Linked DNA regions of Homo sapiens. The protein of the gene in region 5 purifies or fractionates together with the protein of the main gene of each other region. This does not show direct contact. Each region holds a gene or a part of one and is shown on either strand. Other genes may lie near its edges.

Region 1 (3,520 bases), on a different chromosome or scaffold from region 5:
CTAACTCCACAGTTTGAACCGAACTGAAATTCTGTAAAATATGAGCAGGAGTTTTTAAGAGTACTTTCATCACTCAGGCTAAAATACACAGAAAATAATACACATTTCATTACATAGTTCCTAAACTTACTTGAAGACATCTTAAGTCCCCAAAATTGTGTTCACAGATGCCTAAAGCAAGAGAAGAACTAACAAATTAGTACAGACCAAACAGAAGACAAGCAAAAGAGAGAGCTCTTTGTGCTTTCTTGAGCGTGTATTATAGTGATATGTAGTATAGAGATCAGTGTTTCAGTAAAATATTTTGTAGAAAATGGAAGGAATATTTCTGTTCACGTATTCAGTGAAACTTACAAATTGCATTCAAGTGTCATCATTAACAGTTATATGGTGTTCATAAAAGCTTTATTATTTCGCTGTAGATTTAGGATTAGCATCTTCTATCACCTTTACAGAAACAAGGAGTACACATTTATCATCGCTCAATTGGTTTGAGTTGCCACAAAGTAAAAACATTTTGTCATCCCTGTTTTAGGAAAAGAGTAGAAACTAAAGCACTGAAGAATGCTGTCTTAAATCTGAAAGGCTGACCCTAGAATAAGATTCACTTATTTAACAAATCTCATCAATCTAGAAAATTATCTTATCTATACCCAGAGCACTTAATTTCTGGTAACTCTTTCTCCACAACACATTCATCAAAGACCTGGTTGCTGAGTATCCCTGTGTCCTAATAGACATTGCCTAACATATCAGCAGGAAGCCTGCTGTGCCAGGCACCGCAATTAGATTTATAATGCTCCCTCATCTCAGGGAACACCCTTGCCCAGTGCTGGGTCATGCCACCCTTGCTGATTATGCTTGATATGCAAATTCCTTCAATAGACTTAGACAGATCAAATTTTTTTAAATGCCATTGGCTGCTGATCCATGCTCTTAATTGGTCTATGAGAATAGGCCACAGTTTTTCATACTCGTCTAATGAGAAATCATATCTCTACAAATTAATGGTTGCCTGTTGCTCTCAAAACTGCAAGACTGTAAGTTATTTGAAGGCAGGTTCTGTGTCTGATTTGCCTTTGTATCCCTTATGGTGCCTTGCACCAGTGCAAGATTGCTCAAAAGATGTCTAATCACACACAGCAGAGGTACCACAAGGAAGTTTCTGGATAGTTTATACAGCTCTTCCCCCACACACTCCAAAAAATTATCACGCTATTAAACATAGAAATAATAATACTGGATTTCCCCAACATTTTAATGGTGTAGTATTAAATTCATTTTACATTTCACCTGAGACTTACTATAATATTTTCAGGCCTTTAAAAGTCTTAATCTAGTGTTGGATCCACATAATACACATTCAGTATGTACTTGTAAAATACACAAACGAAAAGAATAAATTAGAGAATTCAACCCATTAAGGTGCTGTCAACCTCAGACTGATACCCTTTGTCAGAGCAGTACAAAGGAAAGATAAGAGGAGGTTTTTAAATAAAGCAAATTGTGATATTTTAGCTTTGTTTCAAGTGCATCCTTGCGATGTATATAAAAGTTAACAATTACATTAGAATTGAATGCTTAACAAAAACGTAACAATTATGTTAGAATTCAACGCTTAGCAAAAAGTGACTTGGAAGACCATCTCACAATTATTAAATGCAAGAGATTTTTTAAATAAAAATAGCTTGTTACTCTCAAACCCATTTTTATTATGTGCAAGGAAGCATGAACTTCAATATTAAAAAGGAAAACATTAAAAATTACTGTAATTGGGGATTTATTAAAATTAGCCTGTGATTTTGTCTCCTGTAGCTTTTAAAAAGTACATAAATGGATTGGTTCCTAAAACAGAAATGAAGGGGAAACTCATTGAGGATGTATTTCAGGTGAATTATTTACTGTTTTCATAGAATTTTAGGACTAGAGGGGACTTTTAGTCTCATATACAGCTGAGGAAACTGAGCACAGATTGATTTAATGACTTACCCCAAAGTCCCTATCCACTGGGCAAAACAGCTGAGATATACTCAGTCAGCCTGATAACCTCTGTGTTCATCTCTAGGTAAATCTCCATCACAGCCTCCATAGCACAGACTCCAAACTCATTTGGGAATCCAAACTTCTCCCCTAATTGTCAGAAAATAACCTCACCCTTACTCCAGGGACAAGGTCTAGGTCATTTAGGAGAGTGTCCTCCAATTTCCCTTCCCCAGTTTATTGATTTTAATCTCCATCCACCTCACCCTTACTCCAGGGACAAAGTCTAGGTCATTTAGTACAATGTCTTCCAATTTCCCTTTCCTAATTGATCGATTTTAATCTCTATCTTTCCTTGCCTTTGTCTTTGAGGTCCTTTCTTTTTCTGCCCATTCTCTCCTGCTCTCCCTATCACAACACTTCTATGAGAATCTTCCTGCTGAACATCTCTTCTTTTAAATCAAAATCTCCTCCTAGCTTCTATCTTAACTTTCAAAAATCCTTAGGTTACCCTCTCTCAAAAAAAAATGCTACTATCTTGTCCCTCTGTTCCCTTTTATCACCAATGTCTTGAAAAAGTGACCATCTTTATGTCCTCCTCTCCTCCTCTCATTTCCTAATCCCTTGCTGTCAAGCAAGTGCATGTTCCATCCAGCTAAAAATATTCTCTTGAAGGTCCCTCAGAACCTCAGGATTTCCTCAGAATTCACTCTGCTCAACTTTTTTACCTCATCTCTTTCAACCCCATCTGTCTTTCCGTTTTCCTTTTCCTCTGACCTCCATTATAATGCATTATATTTTCCTATTGTTTCTTTCGCCATTCCTTCTCTCTTTCGCCACTCCTTCTCTCCTTCCTTTTTTTTTTTTTTTTTTTTTTCTTTTTTTGAGACAAAGTCTTGCTCTGTCCCCAGGAGTGCAGTGGTGCAATCTCGGCTCACTGCAACCTCCGCCTCCTGGGTTCCATTGATTCTCCTGCCTCAGCCTCCCAAGTAGCTGGGACTACAGGCACGCACCACGACGCCCAGCTAATTTTTGTATTTTTAGTGGAGACGGGGTTTCACCATGTTGGCCAGGATGTTCTCAGTCTCCTGACCTCGTGATCCACCCGCCTCGGCCTCCCAAAGTGCTGGGATTACAGGCGTGAGCCACAGCGCCCGGCCCTCTCCTTCCTTTTTTTTTTTTTTGTTTGTTTGTTGTCGTTGTTCCTAGTTCTATAAATGTAGGAACTCTTCTAGTTTTATCCTCAATTGCAGGCTGATTCTTGACTGTATCCTCTACTTTGGAAATTTCAAATTCTCACGATTTCAACTATCCTGCCTGAGCAGATCTACCTCAAATCTACATATCCAGCTTGAACTTTTGCTCAAGTTTTGATCCATGTTTCCAATTGCTGATCATCTTCACCCAGGCATTATCTGGCATCTCAAACTCAATGTGTTCTAATCTGCTAAATTCTATTACTGTCTTGTTCCCAATCCCACAGTTTAAAACTGCCATCCCCTGAGCTTCCTCCCTCTCTCGAACACCCCCATCCCATTTG
Region 2 (3,520 bases), on a different chromosome or scaffold from region 5:
CACCACTGCACTCCAGCCTGGGTGAGAGAGCGAGACTCCATCTCAAAAAAAAAAAAAAAAAAAAACAGGAGACCCCCCTAACTAAGACAGCCAGGAGCTAGGAGATGGGGCAGCCATGGGTGTGCACCGGGGTCTTCCTGGGACAGTAGTATCTCTTGCCTGCTGGTCCATTTCAGACAGGGCTGGGCATTTTAACTCCCAGGGCTATGAAGTCCCAAGGCATGTGATTTTGATATTGAAGATAGTCCTGGTTGGTGGGGAAATGAGAATAGCTTTCCTTAGGCCAACGTTCTGCAAAATGCTAAGCCATATTATTGGCCTTTTCCCTTGGGAACTATTTCCTGTTGGCATTTGGGGCTGTCTTTTGCCTAGAATGTACTTTCTGGGCCTGCACTCAACCGATCAAGCAGTTTGAGGGTCCAACAGGTTCCTCCTCATGAGTTTTCCCTGCGGTGCTGACTGAACGCAAAGCGCAAAGGCTCTTCCTCAAGAAACTCAGCGTGAAGGTGGGGGTTTCCACGGGGTCTCTGGGTGGGGCGTTAGTTCCCAGCACAGGCCAGACTCAGCAGCGAGCTGTGTGCAAGGAGACCTGTGGGGAGCGCTGCCTGGGGCCAGGATGGGCCTGGGGCAAGGTGAGTGAGAGAAGGGAAGTGGAGGGGGCCCCATGCCTGTAATCCCAGCACTTTGGGAGGCCGAGGCGGGAGGATCGCTTGAGCCCAAGGGTTCAAGACCAGCCTGGGCAGCACAGAGAGACACCTCTCTCTACAATCAATCAATCAATCAATCAATCAATCAATTGAAGTGGAGGGGAGGGATGGAGAAGCAGGACTGTCTGGAGGAAGTCAGAGCAAGCTCCTGAGCAGGGAAGGAATGAAGCAGAAGGCAACATGGCTCAGGGGTGCCCATGCCCAGCCCAGCACTGCCCACTCCCTGCTGTCCCTGCTGCTCATCCCCCTCCCCCTCATTCATACCCTGGCTTAATGGACTTAACCGCAGTCCCCCTATCTGCAAAGCCCAGATGGAGCACAGAAGCAGAGGGCTGTTTGCCATCCATCCCTTAGGCAGAGGCAGGTGACAGGACAGGGAGAGGGGCAGGGAGGCCAACTGGGGAGACGCAACAGGCCGTGGGCAGGCCTGTCTGAAAGAAGGTCAGAATGGAATCTACTCCAAGCGTGGCAAAGGCTTACTCATGACCCAGAGGAAACTGCACCTGGGGCTTGGTTTTTCCAAAGGAAGAACTTTTTGTCAAGTAAAAGGATTTTAAAGGAGACTAAGAGGGCCAGGCATGATGGCTCACGCCTGTAATCCCAGTGCTTTGGGAGGCTCAGGCAGGAGGATTACTTGAGACTAGGAGTTCAAGACCAGCCTAGGCAACAGCAAACTTCGTCTTTACAAAAAATAGAAAACCACTTTGCCTGGTATGGTGGTGCATCTGTAGTGCCAGCTACTCAGGAAGCTGATGCGGGAGGATCGCTTAGGAATGTGAGGCTGCAGTGAGCTATGACTGGCCACTGCACTCCAGCCTGGGGGACAGAGTGAGACCTTGTCTCAAAATAAAATAAAATAAAGTAAAATAAAATAAAATAAAAGGAGGACTAGGGGTGTTGGCCTGAGGCTCAGAGCGGGCCTGGCAGGGCCAGGGAGGGCAGTGACTATTCCTGGTCTCTGGCAGGTGGAGAAGGGCAGGGCTGCGTGGGTCCGTGTCCTGGGTCCCAGCCAGGCTGAGCCAATAGGAGCAGGCTTAAGGAAGGGACACTCAGAACACGGTCTCAGCATTTGGGGCAGGTTAATGGGGGCACTGACAGCGGGATTTGGGAAAAGCACTGCTCTGCCTCCAGCCGGTCCATCTGGGGGCTGGTGGGCAGCTGCTGCCTCCCTAGGAAGAAGCACTGGCAACCGCCCGTGACCACCAAGGCTGAGTGTCCTGGTGGGTGCCCACCCTGTTCATGCAAGAACCCGGAATGTGCCTGGGCCCAGACTTTGTCAGGGCTAAAGTAAACTGTTCTTGAAAACAACAATAACATCAACATTGCAGCAGCTGCTCCTTGGCCATTTCCATCCATGCCAACCTCAAGTGCCTCCGCCCTGCAGGTAACAGCATGACAGCTTCCCAAAGGCACGTCCAATCAGTGCAAAAATAAAGGGCCTCTCAGTGGTCATTTTGGTAAAGCAAGGATGTTACCGCTACGTTACCCTGAATGTACTGTGGAGCCTTTCAGGAAGTCCAGGCCTAAGAACTTGAAATGTTTTAACTCAATGGCATTCAGTCAAATTGGCAAAACTTTTCAGACGCCCCCTAAGACCTCCACCCTGGCAGCAGAAATCTCTGGATAAATTACTAAGCTGCTCACCTTTGGAGAGCATATTAATATTTACAGCTTTAGTAAAGCACATGTAAAATAACTGATGATCAACGCTGGCAAAACCTCTGAAACTGCTCATCACCAAGAGACCCAGGAGTTGCAAATAACCCAGCCAGTGCTGACTCGTCACTAGCTACCGCTCTGCACCTGGGCCTGGAAGCGTCTGAATCCAATTGTGAGCAGATGCAAGTTCTCAGATGTTTCTCAGACAGGAATCCAACCCGTTCCTCTGTTGTTTTTCCTACTCAAATGGAAATTAGAGTCTTATCTGAACTGCTCATAATCCTTTTAATTTCCTTTCAAAAATTAAAAAAAATACTTTGTACATTTCTGATTCAAAGTATATATATTTTTTCTGGCATCTAAAAAATACTTTTATCTCCCATCAGCCTCTGGTTAACTCAGCTGGAAGTTTCAAAGGCGTTTGGATCCCAGAGTTGTTTGTGCTCTTAGTTGCACATTTCTGCCTCCGTCCAGCCTTCCAGCAGGCGGCTGGCCTTCTCTGCACCAGAATCTGAGCTATCAGAATCAGGGTCACAGATCAACATCAGCCCGGCATTCCTCCTCCGAAATTTCACATTAAAGCCGGCTTTCACCAGTCAGAAATCTTGCCCCAGGAGCTCCCAGACGGGACAACAGGCAGTGCTCTGAGAAGGGGACGCAGAGGACCAGCCCAGCATGGGTCTGGCTGTGGGCTGGGAATCCCGTGAGCCTCTGTGACACGGGGCTGTTGCTGAGACCAGAGGGCTTCCCAGGAGCAGACGTGCGTCTGCCACTCCTGCTGCTGTTTTGCGTAGGTTCTAGACATCACAATCCCAGAACTGACCCAGTGTGCTGCCCACATTCTTACATGAAGAGGAGACGCAGGACTCCGGGGTGCTGGGCTTGCCCTCCCTGTAGACAGCCTCGTGAGCGGCTGGCAGGGCCTGCGGGTGGCCGTTTCTGGCGTGCTGGGCTGTCTGGGGAGGTGTGTGTTGGTCTTCCACCCTGGAGAAAAACATGAAAAACGGCAGTGAGTACAGCCAGCCAGGAGATTCGGACTGCCGACTGCCGACTGCAGCATCACAAATACAGGAGGGGGCGGTGCCTCAAAGTCTTGTTAAACCATCATTAGCATATCAGACCTTCTAAAGGGTCTTGGCAGGAGCCAGGAGGCT
Region 3 (3,520 bases), on a different chromosome or scaffold from region 5:
CTCTGCTAACCCAAACACTCCACTCTTGGCAGTTTTCTTGGATCTCAGTAATTTTCTGTCTCACAAATAGCGCCAACAAACTCACAAGTTTCACACACCCTTACCTGTACTAATCCTTACTCTTTGCCCCCAAATCCTTTAAAACCATATCGTTATATACTATACATTCTGCAGCTGGCATATTATATGTCTGTTTTGGTTTTCTATTCCTCCCACTGTAGTCCAACTTTACTTTCCTTTTAAATATCACTGTTAGAATCGATGTCACCTAAAGTGATATAGTTACTTGTTACTCTAAGTCTGAAAATGTTTCCTATGTTTTCCCCTTGGCCAATGAATTCCTGGAGTGACCTAGATCAAATTGTTCTCTGGGTCATCTACAATTACAAAATGATTAATACCTGGAACTCCCTTATAGGGATTCCATGATATCAGCAACAAAAGAAAGAAAATTGTGGAAATATAACCACTAGTATGCATTTACCTCTGTACTATTACTCAAGTGTAGTTCAAACTCGTTTTTGGGATCAAAAACTCTAGTGGAATGAAGAGAAAATGTTCAATATAAAATTCCAGGTATAATAATATAAATTCTGCTTTATACCATTAGCATGTAAGGTAGCTCCATTTTCCTAAGGAAACAACCCATGCTAATCAAAGAATGGAAGTTCCCAAGAAAATGACAGTGGTATTCATTATTTTTATTCCTGAAAAATAGGAGTATTCTATAACAGAGATAGAAATGATAAAAAGCTGAATTTTTCTTGGAAATTACAAGTTTTTGTTTGTTTGTTTTTTTAAAAACAAACAAACAAACAAAACAAATTCTCGGCTGGGCACAGTGGCTCATGCCTGTAATCCCAGCACTTTGGGAGGCCGAAGCAGGTGGATTGCTTGAGGTCAGGAGTTCAAGACCAGCCTGGCCAACATGGCGAAACCCTATCTCTACTAAAAATACAAAAAAAAAAAAAAAAAAATTAGCCAGGCCGATGGTGCACGCCTGCACTCAGGAGGCTGAGGCAGGAGAATAGCTTGAACCCAGGAGGTGGAGGTTGCAGTGAGCTGAGATTGTGCCACTGCACTCCAGCCTGGGCGACAGAGCAAGACTCAGTCTCAAAAAAAACAAAAAAACAACAACAAAAAAACACAAAACAGAACTCTATATAGTTTAAAAATTTATTTAAAGAACTTTAGTTTAGTTATAAAGCACCCTTATTTGAAAAACCTTTTCATGTATTTTATTTATTTATTTATTGTTTTTTTTTTTTTTTGAGACAGAGTCTTGCTCTGTCACCCAGGCTGGAGTGCAGTGGTGCAATCTTGTCTCACTGCAACCTCCGCTTCCCGGGTTCAAAGGATTCTCCTGCCTCAGCCTCCAGAGTAGCTGCTGGAATTACAGGTGCACGCCACCATGCCCAGCTAATTTTTGTATTTTTAGTGGAGACAGGGTCTCGCCATGTCGGTCAGGCTAGTCCTGAACTCCTGACCTCAGGTGATCCTCCCGCCTCAGCCTCCCAAAGTGCTGGGATTTCAGGTGTGAGTCACTGCACCCGGTCTAAAATTCCTTTTATAACCTAACTTTATGTTTTGTTTATAATTCAAATGTGAGAATTTTGTTAAATTGGGGTGATAACACTTAAATCACCTTTTGCTGTTTTAAAATGACTTTTCTTGATCTACATAAGTAATGCAAATTATACTCCACACATTCTCCTGGGTAACCCTAAAAACCTGTTTCTTGGTGTGGGAGTCTCGCTAACTACAGAGCTGAGATTACTGACGAATGGAATAATGAGGAAAACAGCTCGCTGGTTTACAAGACCTCAACCTTTACATTTATTTATGAAAACTACATGAGGATCAGGAGTATCAGCATTAAGACTGCCTCTTAAGTTCAGGGCACCTTTACACCATACTGTGTTTGATCTCATATAAAACTGAGAATACCTCAGAGTTCTACTACTTAAAGCACTAGCCTTATAATTTGCAGGAATGTAATTAAACCTTTAAGACCAAGTTTTGAATACAGAGAGAGCACAGGGATCTTAGATGCTGTGGGGTTGAAAGGGCACCCTTCAAGTGAAGTAGTTGGAAGAGGTGAGAAAAAGGTACAGAAAGAAAACCCCATCCCACTCACAATTCTGCATAGAGTATAAAAAGCAAATCAGGACTTTTAGATAGGCTAGTTAGGAAAATGTGGCATAATGATATGCTAAGATATTTCTAAACATTTTAAAGATCATAAATCTAGTGGATAGGATAGCAAAAACAATTCTCTATCAAACCATTTTCTAGCTGGGTGCGGTGGCTCATGCCTGTAATCCCAGCACTTTGGGAAGCTGAGGCGGGCAGATCACCTGAGGTCAGGAGTTCGAGACCAGCCTGGCCAACATGGCAAAACCCCACTTCTACTAAAAATACAAAAAAATCAGCTGGGTGTGTTGGCGGGCACTTGTAATCCCAGCTACTCGCAAGGCTGAGGCAGGAGAATCTTTTGAGCCCCAGAGGTGGAGGTTGCAGTGAGCTGAGATCACACTACAGCACTCCTGCCTGGATGACAGAGTGAGACTCCATCTCAAAAAAAAAAAAAAAAAATGATTTTCTAGAACAATTTATATAAGGTAGTTATTCTGTGACTTTCCAGGAATTAGGCTAGAAAGAATATTTTTGCTTGTGGTGGTAAAGAATTAAAGTAGTTCAAGTTCTTCCTTCCTGATGATCCTGAGCACAGAGGTGAAAATATCTATTTTTACTGACTGGAAGTGAGGAGTTTATTTGTGAAAGATAAAATTTCAGTTGTTTCCAACTCTATAACCTATAAAAAGTGGTATTACTATACACACTATTTCACAGGAAATTCAAAATACTTTACATCCAATTTCCTGAAGCTCTGCATATAACTAGAAATGGGTATGGAGTCCACAAATTACTGTTATTGACATTTTACTGCAAAAGAATCTGAATGACAAATGAAGGGAAATCTGAACATAGGTCATCAAGATATGAACACTTTCAGGGCACATTTTGATTCCTTATAAAGTAGAAGTTATCTTCTCTCAAGTTCCCTTGCTGACTTCTCTTTAAACCATGACCTTCCAAAGTTACAGAAACAGTTACTTGGTCGCTCCCTGCTGACCCAAATTCTCCTCATAGAAAGTTCCTATTTTTATATTACCTCTAAGCACGCAGCCAAGCCCCAAGTGACGCAGGTACGATGTCTTACTTGGAAACTAACTTTTAACAGAAATCATATACACTATGAATGAAGCTTTGTTGGGTAAACAGTCTACAGGAGAATGTAGATCCATCTGTGCAAACACTCCAGCAGGCATGCTGAGGGTCATACCTTCTCTGAGACAGCAGTGAAGGTCATGGCGTGGGTCATAAGTGACTCACCAAAAGTCAGCCTCTCCGCTTTATTCATGTTCTTCAAGGAGACACCAAACACTAACTCATGGTCATAGCTGTAAAAAGAATGATAGTACAAAATAAAGGGAGTACGATCATGGGGAAAACTGGC
Region 4 (3,481 bases), on a different chromosome or scaffold from region 5:
TCACTTGAAGTCAGGAGTTCAGGACCAGCCTGGCCAACATGGTGAAACCCCCTCTCTACTAAAAATACAAAAATTAGCTGGGCGTGGTGGCGGGCGCCTGTAATCCCGCTACTCAGCAGGCTGAGGCTTAAGAATCACTTGAACCCAGGAGGCAGAGGTTGCAGTAAGCCAAGATTGCACCACTGCACTCCAGCCTGGGCAACAGTGCAAGACTACATCTCAAACAAAAAAAAAAGAAAAACCTGTAGTCGGCAGAAATGTCTTCTATATTCTGATGATCAGCTGGCTATCACTCTGGTTTTAGCATTGTCAGTTTTCATCTTTTTTATATGCCTTCATATGTAATTATGATGGAAAGCTGGGAGAAACTATTACTGGGGCAAGATGTATTTTTCCTGTGTAACTGAGATGAATTGTTAGTTTCATAGATTATGTATTTTTATATTTTTGGATGAAACAGTTTGAAGTTAAATTTATATCCCTAAAAAAATCAGTTGGCAACACATCGTATATATTTTAACTAATAACAAAAGTGCTTTATTCATTCAGAAGAAACTTCTTAATAAATCAAAGGTTAGTAAAGAATGTTTACTGATTTACATAAAGATTTAAGATTCTTAATTTTCCTCATTATTGTAAATAGATACATTCTCCCTCTCATGCTTCAAAATCTGAGAAATCCCGATGTAAATGAAAAAAAAATGTGTTTACCAAGTAAAAGAATAAGAACAAAAGAAATGCCGGGCAGTGCAGGCCTATATATAGGTCATGGTTTCCAGCTACGTGTCGGGCAGTGGTGCCAAGTCAGACATGGAAACAGCCCCCAAAACGTCAACCCCAAAAGGAACCACAGGGGACATGAAGTTTTTGGTTATCTGAAATTAATTTGACCCATGGGACATGCATTCTGGATAGGGCACTGCCTCAAACTGCCTCACGTTACCAACGTCAAATTGTTTTAGGTCGTAAGTGAGCTTCAACAATGAGAAGGTTGTATGGAGAACATGGAACTTGTCTCTCAGAGCACAAAGAAATCACTGGGGTAGGTGAGAAAAGGAAGAGGAGGCTAGCATGGGAGCAGGTGTGGTTCACCTGCCTTCTGCAAAAAAACTGCGTGGCCACACTGAACGACTGGTGGCAGCTGGGAGGAGGACAGCCACAAGGTGGGCCAAGGAAACTGAGCCGCAAGCAAGACCTGAAACCCACCTCGATAGGAAAGAGACTGACTCCAAAGAGATGTGAGTTGGACGTGTCAGTGGTCATGGCAGAACATTCAGCTAAGATAGAAATTAGGAACTCAGATTACCACACCAGAGAACAGAGGCCCTGAGTCCGCGAGTAGGAACACTCAGAGGTCAGGCCTTCAGTAGACTAGAGCTTGAGATGAGCCCAATGGCCTTCTTGACAAGGGTTTCAGGTTTTGTTTTGGCTTTTTGGGTTTTTTGTTTGTTTGTTTTTTGAGACAGGGTTTCGCTCTGTCACCCAGGCTGGAGTGCAGTGGCGCCATCTCAGCTTACTGCAGCCTCCATCCCCTGGGTTCAAGTGATCTTCCCACCTCAGCCTCCCGAGTAGCTGGGACTATAGGTGCACACCACCACGCCCGGCTAATTTCTGTATTTTTTGTAGAGTCAGGGTCTCAATATGTTGCCCAGGCTGGTCTCGAACTCCTGGACTCAAGTGATCCACCTGACTCGGCCTCCCAAGAAGTGCTGGGATTGCAGGCATGAGCCATCATGCCCAGCCAACAAGCATTGCTATGGACACCATGCCCAGGCTCAAGCCTGTTGTCACCATGTGGTCTGGCATGAGACCTCTCGGAAGACACAAAAGTCCACGTGGCCAGAAGGCAGAGAGAGGGGCACACGGAGGCCAGCCTCCACGTGGCCAGAAGGCAGAGAGAGGGGCACACAGAGGCCAGCCTCCACGTGGCCAGAAGGCAGAGAGAGGGGCATACGGAGGCCAGCCGTCCACAATGCCAGCAGCACTTCTCTTGACACCTGCCTGTGCTGGGTGCATAAAAGGAGCTAGCCACAGGTGGGAATTCTTGGAGCTAGGGGGAGGAGAGACAGAGGGAAGTGTTTGATGATAATGTTGGGGGACTCAATAAGGAAAACTGAGATAAACCTCCTCTAAATCCACTAGCCACTTTCCTGGGTCAGTGTCAAAATCACAAGACAAATATCATTCCCCTGCTCTGTGCAAAATGAGTGCTGGTTGGGGCAGTCACACATCTTTGAGCTATCACTTAAATACGCCCAAGCCCTGCCTTGTCCTAGGTGAAAAGACCTCACAGGACATCTTCCATGCAGTAGCTGTCAAAGGAAGAAACAGGGCATCTCGCCCAGTGATGACCACAATCATAACTATCCCAGAAACAGAGCTGAGTTTCCAAACACGTTCCGGTCAAACTACCCCAGAAACAGAGCTGAGTTTCCAAACACGTTCCAGTCAAACATGTTCTCTTGCTGCCCATGTTAAAGTGGCTTCTGAGTTTGCCATCTCTTAGAAATGGTCTAATGACCTGAACTTTTAGGATTCCTTCAAAAGGAGGTAGGTACTGTTCTGAATTGTGTTGACCTTCAGGTCACAGAGGGTGAATTTATATGCTTGAAAGTTTAGGGTAGAGAACAACAGCCCTTCAATACTAACAGACTCAGATGAAAATAAGCTACAGGGTGACAGAAAGATCAAGATAAGCACAAGCCGATGGCTGGAGGATGAAGGAGATGCTTTAGATATTACCAAAAACTCAAATGCCCATCTTATGCCAGGGGAAGATTGTATTGATATTTTCCTCCAGCTCCAAAGTACTAGACACTGCTCCCCTTTTAAGGAGAGCAGACCCTGCCATAAAAGAGAATGGTTTGGGTTTTGTTGTGTCTAATGAAAAAGAGAAAAGGGTGGTTGGCATTAAACTCCACCCAAGATCGTAGTGACCTTTCCGAGACAACAGCCCCAGTGGCTGCAGCTGCCTGGGTACCGTTTTCATCCACCTCCACAAAGGTTTTGTGGATAATTTTTGACAAGTACAAATTGGGACTTGGAGAGATTCCAGTAAGATCAGCCCTCGTTTCATCAAAGATATCCGTAATGCCCATGTCTTGTAAAATGGAATTGAGATCATAGCTGTCTTCCAGGGTGAACCGGGGGAAGGACAGGACCACCGATTCTTCTGACATGTTTTCTGAGCTGCTCCAGGCCACCATTTTTTCATAGGTGATTTTCCTTTCAAGCTACAAGAGGAAGGAAATAATATTTAGCATCAGATTATGGGACCACAAAGAATGCCCCAATTACTTCAAGGTGCCTGAGTCCCTTTCAGTGGGCAGTGACAACCTTCAAGACCTTTCCCTAAGCTAGAGAATAGTCTGATTTCATTTAAAACTTCAAGCAAATATCTTTCCTCTTTAGAAGAAGTTAGGGGACAACTCAGGTTCCAGTGTGCTCTGGTGTTTGAGAGACAAGTGTTCAAAGCACAGCA
Region 5 (3,308 bases):
TTCAGCATTTTCATCTACTTGCTTAAATTACAAAGATACAAATATTTTCCTTCCAGGTCAGGAGGACACTTCTTTTTAATTCTTTTCCCTTTTTCAGGATATATCAGCACAACTTCTCTGCTCCAACTAGTCTACATTGCAAAGCATCTCCTAGTGTCTTTGGAAGAAGGATCTATGGTCAGTAATTCCTGTTTCGTGATCTGCCTTTGACATGGCTTAATCACCACCTAAGTTGATAATTCCATATTAATAATAGTGATATTCATGATTGAGCAGAGCATGTTTTTTTTTTTCCTGCATGTGATTGTGGGACAGTGATTATGTTGGAGAAAAATATAGGCCTTGATTAAATTTTGTCTTTCATTATTAATTACTTGTTATTTTGAATGTAATGTATCTGCTTTATGGTCATATAGCTTTCCAATGATATAGAAGACATCTAATTCTGGCCATGGGGAAGTATGTAATTTGTGTTTATGACAAATAAGAATACAAGAGACAAACAGTATTATATGATGAATAGTTTATTTTTAATTTAGATGCAGCTTACTATAATATTAATTATGTCCAAGATGATTTTTTGAATACAGAATACTAGAATTCCAATAGAAGGATAATAGAGAAAGATGTGCTAGCCCTGATGTTGATATAGCCACTTTGGTATACAGAACTGTTTTATATTTTTGGCTCCTTCGATATTTCTGAAAAAGATTAATTTAGAAATTTGGGGAGTGTCTAAAACTTAAACTTTCAAAAACATAAAACATTACTTGACCCAGAATCTCCTAAAATACTCCAGCTAGTTTTCTAAAGTTAGCTCTCCATGATATTGATTTCTTCCATTTAATATTTCTGAAATATAGCGTTTAAAGATCATTACACAATAAAAATAAGCTACCACCAAACTAATGAAATACTATAGCATATTTTAAACAGATTGACAGGAAAAGATAACTTCCCTGAAAGTATTATGAAGTTTCTTGATTGAAAGTGAACTTGCTTCATTCTTCTATTCTTGGATTAATTCCTTTGCCATTAATTTCTTACTCATAGTAATAGTATCTCTGTGACTGACTAAATCCCAGTTGTTTCGATATATCACTAGAATGGCCACATAAACCTGGGTCCTTATTAATATACGTTGCATAATACCTTGGATGATCTTTACCAAACGCACTTGCTTTACAGATATCAGATCTTTCCTTGAAAACAACAGGATTGGAATTGTAACTAACACTTCCGTGCTGAGAGTGTCTAAACCCGGATTCACCATAATCATAATCTGCACTACCATAGCTGCCATGTCTCCAAACTAAACCTGATTGACCTTTTTGCCTTTCAGTGCCCTCAGATTGATAATGATAAGAACTAGAACTGTGAGGACTGCCACGTGACTGTATTCCTGAGTGATACGCAGAATCTTGTGAAAGACTACTAAAGTGACCATGTTCCTTAGCGGTACTAGAGTCTGACTGTACAGGTGAAGACTGTACATGACTGGCTGTATCGCGGTGAGAGGATCCGGGGTGTCTGGAGCCATCTCTTGACTGCTCCCGAGAAGATCCATGATGGTTTCTGGAAGCAGACTCAGATCGCCTCTCAGAGTCCTCTGGGTATGCCTCACTGTCACTGTCCTGGCTAACACTGGATCCCTGGCGCCTGCTTCTCCTGGACCCCGCTGATTCACCCTGGCCGGACTGTGAGTGTCTAGAGCTGTCAGCCTGAGTGGAAGCTTCATGGTGACGCGACCCTGAGTGCCTGGAGCCGTCTCCTGACTGTTCCTCATTACGTGTTTCTCTGCTTGCACTTCTGGATCCTGACTGCCCATGGGAGGCATCAGACCTTCCCTGGGATGTGGTGTGGCTGTGATGGGACCCTGAGTGTCCAGACCTATCTACCGATTGCTCGTGGTAGGATCCCTGTCTTCCTCCTCTCCTTGACCCCGGGTGTCCACGAATGGTGTCCTGACCCTCTTGGGACGCTGAGTGCCTGGAGCTGTCTCGTGCCTGCTCGTGGCGGGATCCTTGTCTTCCTCCAGTACTGGGCCCAGCCCGTCCATGGGCAGACTCAGACTGTTCATGAGTGCTCACCTGGTAGAGGAAAGACCCTGAACGTCCAGACCTTCCTGCTGACCGGCCACGTGTGGACTCTTGGTGGCTCTGCTGATGGGGCCCAGCCTGTCCGTGGGCTGACACTGACTGTGTGTCTGAGTCTTCTGAATGTCCCTCACTGTCACTGGCCTGACTACCACTGGACCCTCGGTGTCCACTGTCTCTGACTGCAGATGAAGCTTGTCCGTGCCCAATGCCTGAGTGTCTGGAGCTGTCTGCTGACTGCTGGTGGTGGGATCCATGTCTCTCTCCTGCACTTGATCTTGCCTGTTCATGGGATGATGCAGCCTGTCCACCAGAGGAATTCTCTGCATGATGAGTGCCTGATTGTCTGGAGCTCTCTGCAGAGTGCCCGTGACCGGCTCTGTCTTCGTGATGGGACGTGGGGTGTCTGGAGCCATCTCTTGACTGCTCCTGAGCAGATCCACGATGGTTTCTGGAAGCAGACCCAGACCACCTCTCAGAGTCTTCTGAGTGTCCCTGACTGTCACTGTCCTGGCTAACACTGGATCCCTGGTTCCTGCTTGTCCTGGGCCCCGCTGATTGTCCCTGGCCGGACTGTGAGTGTCTAGAGCTGTCCGCCTGAGTGGAAGCTTCATGGTGATGCGACCATGAGTGCCTGGAGCCATCTCCTGATTGTTCGTCATTACGAGTTTGTCTGCTGGCACTTCTGGATCCTGACTGCCCACGGGAGGCATCAGACCTTCCCTGGGATGTGGTGTGGCTGTGATGGGACCCTGAGTGTCCAGACCTATCTACCGATTGCTCGTAGTGGGATCCCTGCCTTCCTCTTCTGCTTGACCCCGGGTGTCCACGAATGGTGTCCTGACCCTCTTGGGACGCTGAGTGCCTGGAGCTGTCTCGTGCCTGCTCGTGGTGGGATCCTTGTCTTCGTCCAGTGCTGGTCCTGGTCCGCCCATGGGCAGACTCAGACTGTTCATGAGTGCTCACCTGGTAGAGGAAAGACCCTGAACGTCCAGACCTTCCCCCTGACCGGTCACGTGCGGACTCTTGGTGGCTCTGCTGATGGGGCCCAGCCTGTCCATGGCCTGACACTGACTGTGTGTCTGACTCTTCTGAATGTCCCTCACTATCACTGGCCTGACTACCACTGGACCCCCAGTGTCTACTGTCTCTGACTGCAGATGAAGCTTGTCCACGCGGAATGCCTGAGTGTCTGGAGCTGTCTGCTGACTG

Evidence for each region.
Region 1: the proteins of FLG (region 5) and DSG1 purify together in Homo sapiens (affinity purification with mass spectrometry, with the first as the bait; one large-scale study listed by BioGRID). This does not show direct contact.
Region 2: the proteins of FLG (region 5) and ARMC9 purify together in Homo sapiens (co-immunoprecipitation; one large-scale study listed by IntAct). This does not show direct contact.
Region 3: the proteins of FLG (region 5) and BLMH purify together in Homo sapiens (affinity purification with mass spectrometry, with the first as the bait; one large-scale study listed by BioGRID). This does not show direct contact.
Region 4: the proteins of FLG (region 5) and SERPINB12 fractionate together in Homo sapiens (co-fractionation; one large-scale study listed by BioGRID). This does not show direct contact.

What each region holds. Positions count from the first base shown.
Region 1 is NC_000018.10:31,321,142-31,324,661, forward strand, and holds part of DSG1 (desmoglein-1 preproprotein), read left to right. Parts: intron 1-3,520. UniProt on the Homo sapiens protein: Component of intercellular desmosome junctions. Involved in the interaction of plaque proteins and intermediate filaments mediating cell-cell adhesion.
Region 2 is NC_000002.12:231,355,628-231,359,147, reverse strand, and holds part of ARMC9 (lisH domain-containing protein ARMC9), read right to left. Parts: intron 3,351-3,520; coding exon 3,214-3,350; intron 1-3,213. UniProt on the Homo sapiens protein: Involved in ciliogenesis. It is required for appropriate acetylation and polyglutamylation of ciliary microtubules, and regulation of cilium length. Acts as a positive regulator of hedgehog (Hh)signaling.
Region 3 is NC_000017.11:30,267,925-30,271,444, forward strand, and holds part of BLMH (bleomycin hydrolase), read right to left. Parts: intron 3,465-3,520; coding exon 3,347-3,464; intron 1-3,346. UniProt on the Homo sapiens protein: The normal physiological role of BLM hydrolase is unknown, but it catalyzes the inactivation of the antitumor drug BLM (a glycopeptide) by hydrolyzing the carboxamide bond of its B-aminoalaninamide moiety thus protecting normal and malignant cells from BLM toxicity.
Region 4 is NC_000018.10:63,566,359-63,569,839, reverse strand, and holds the end of SERPINB12 (serpin B12), read right to left. Parts: intron 3,234-3,481; coding exon 2,829-3,233; 3' UTR 511-2,828; downstream 1-510. UniProt on the Homo sapiens protein: Inhibits trypsin and plasmin, but not thrombin, coagulation factor Xa, or urokinase-type plasminogen activator. May play a role in cell differentiation.
Region 5 is NC_000001.11:152,301,657-152,304,964, forward strand, and holds the end of FLG (filaggrin), read right to left. Parts: coding exon 1,044-3,308; 3' UTR 509-1,043; downstream 1-508.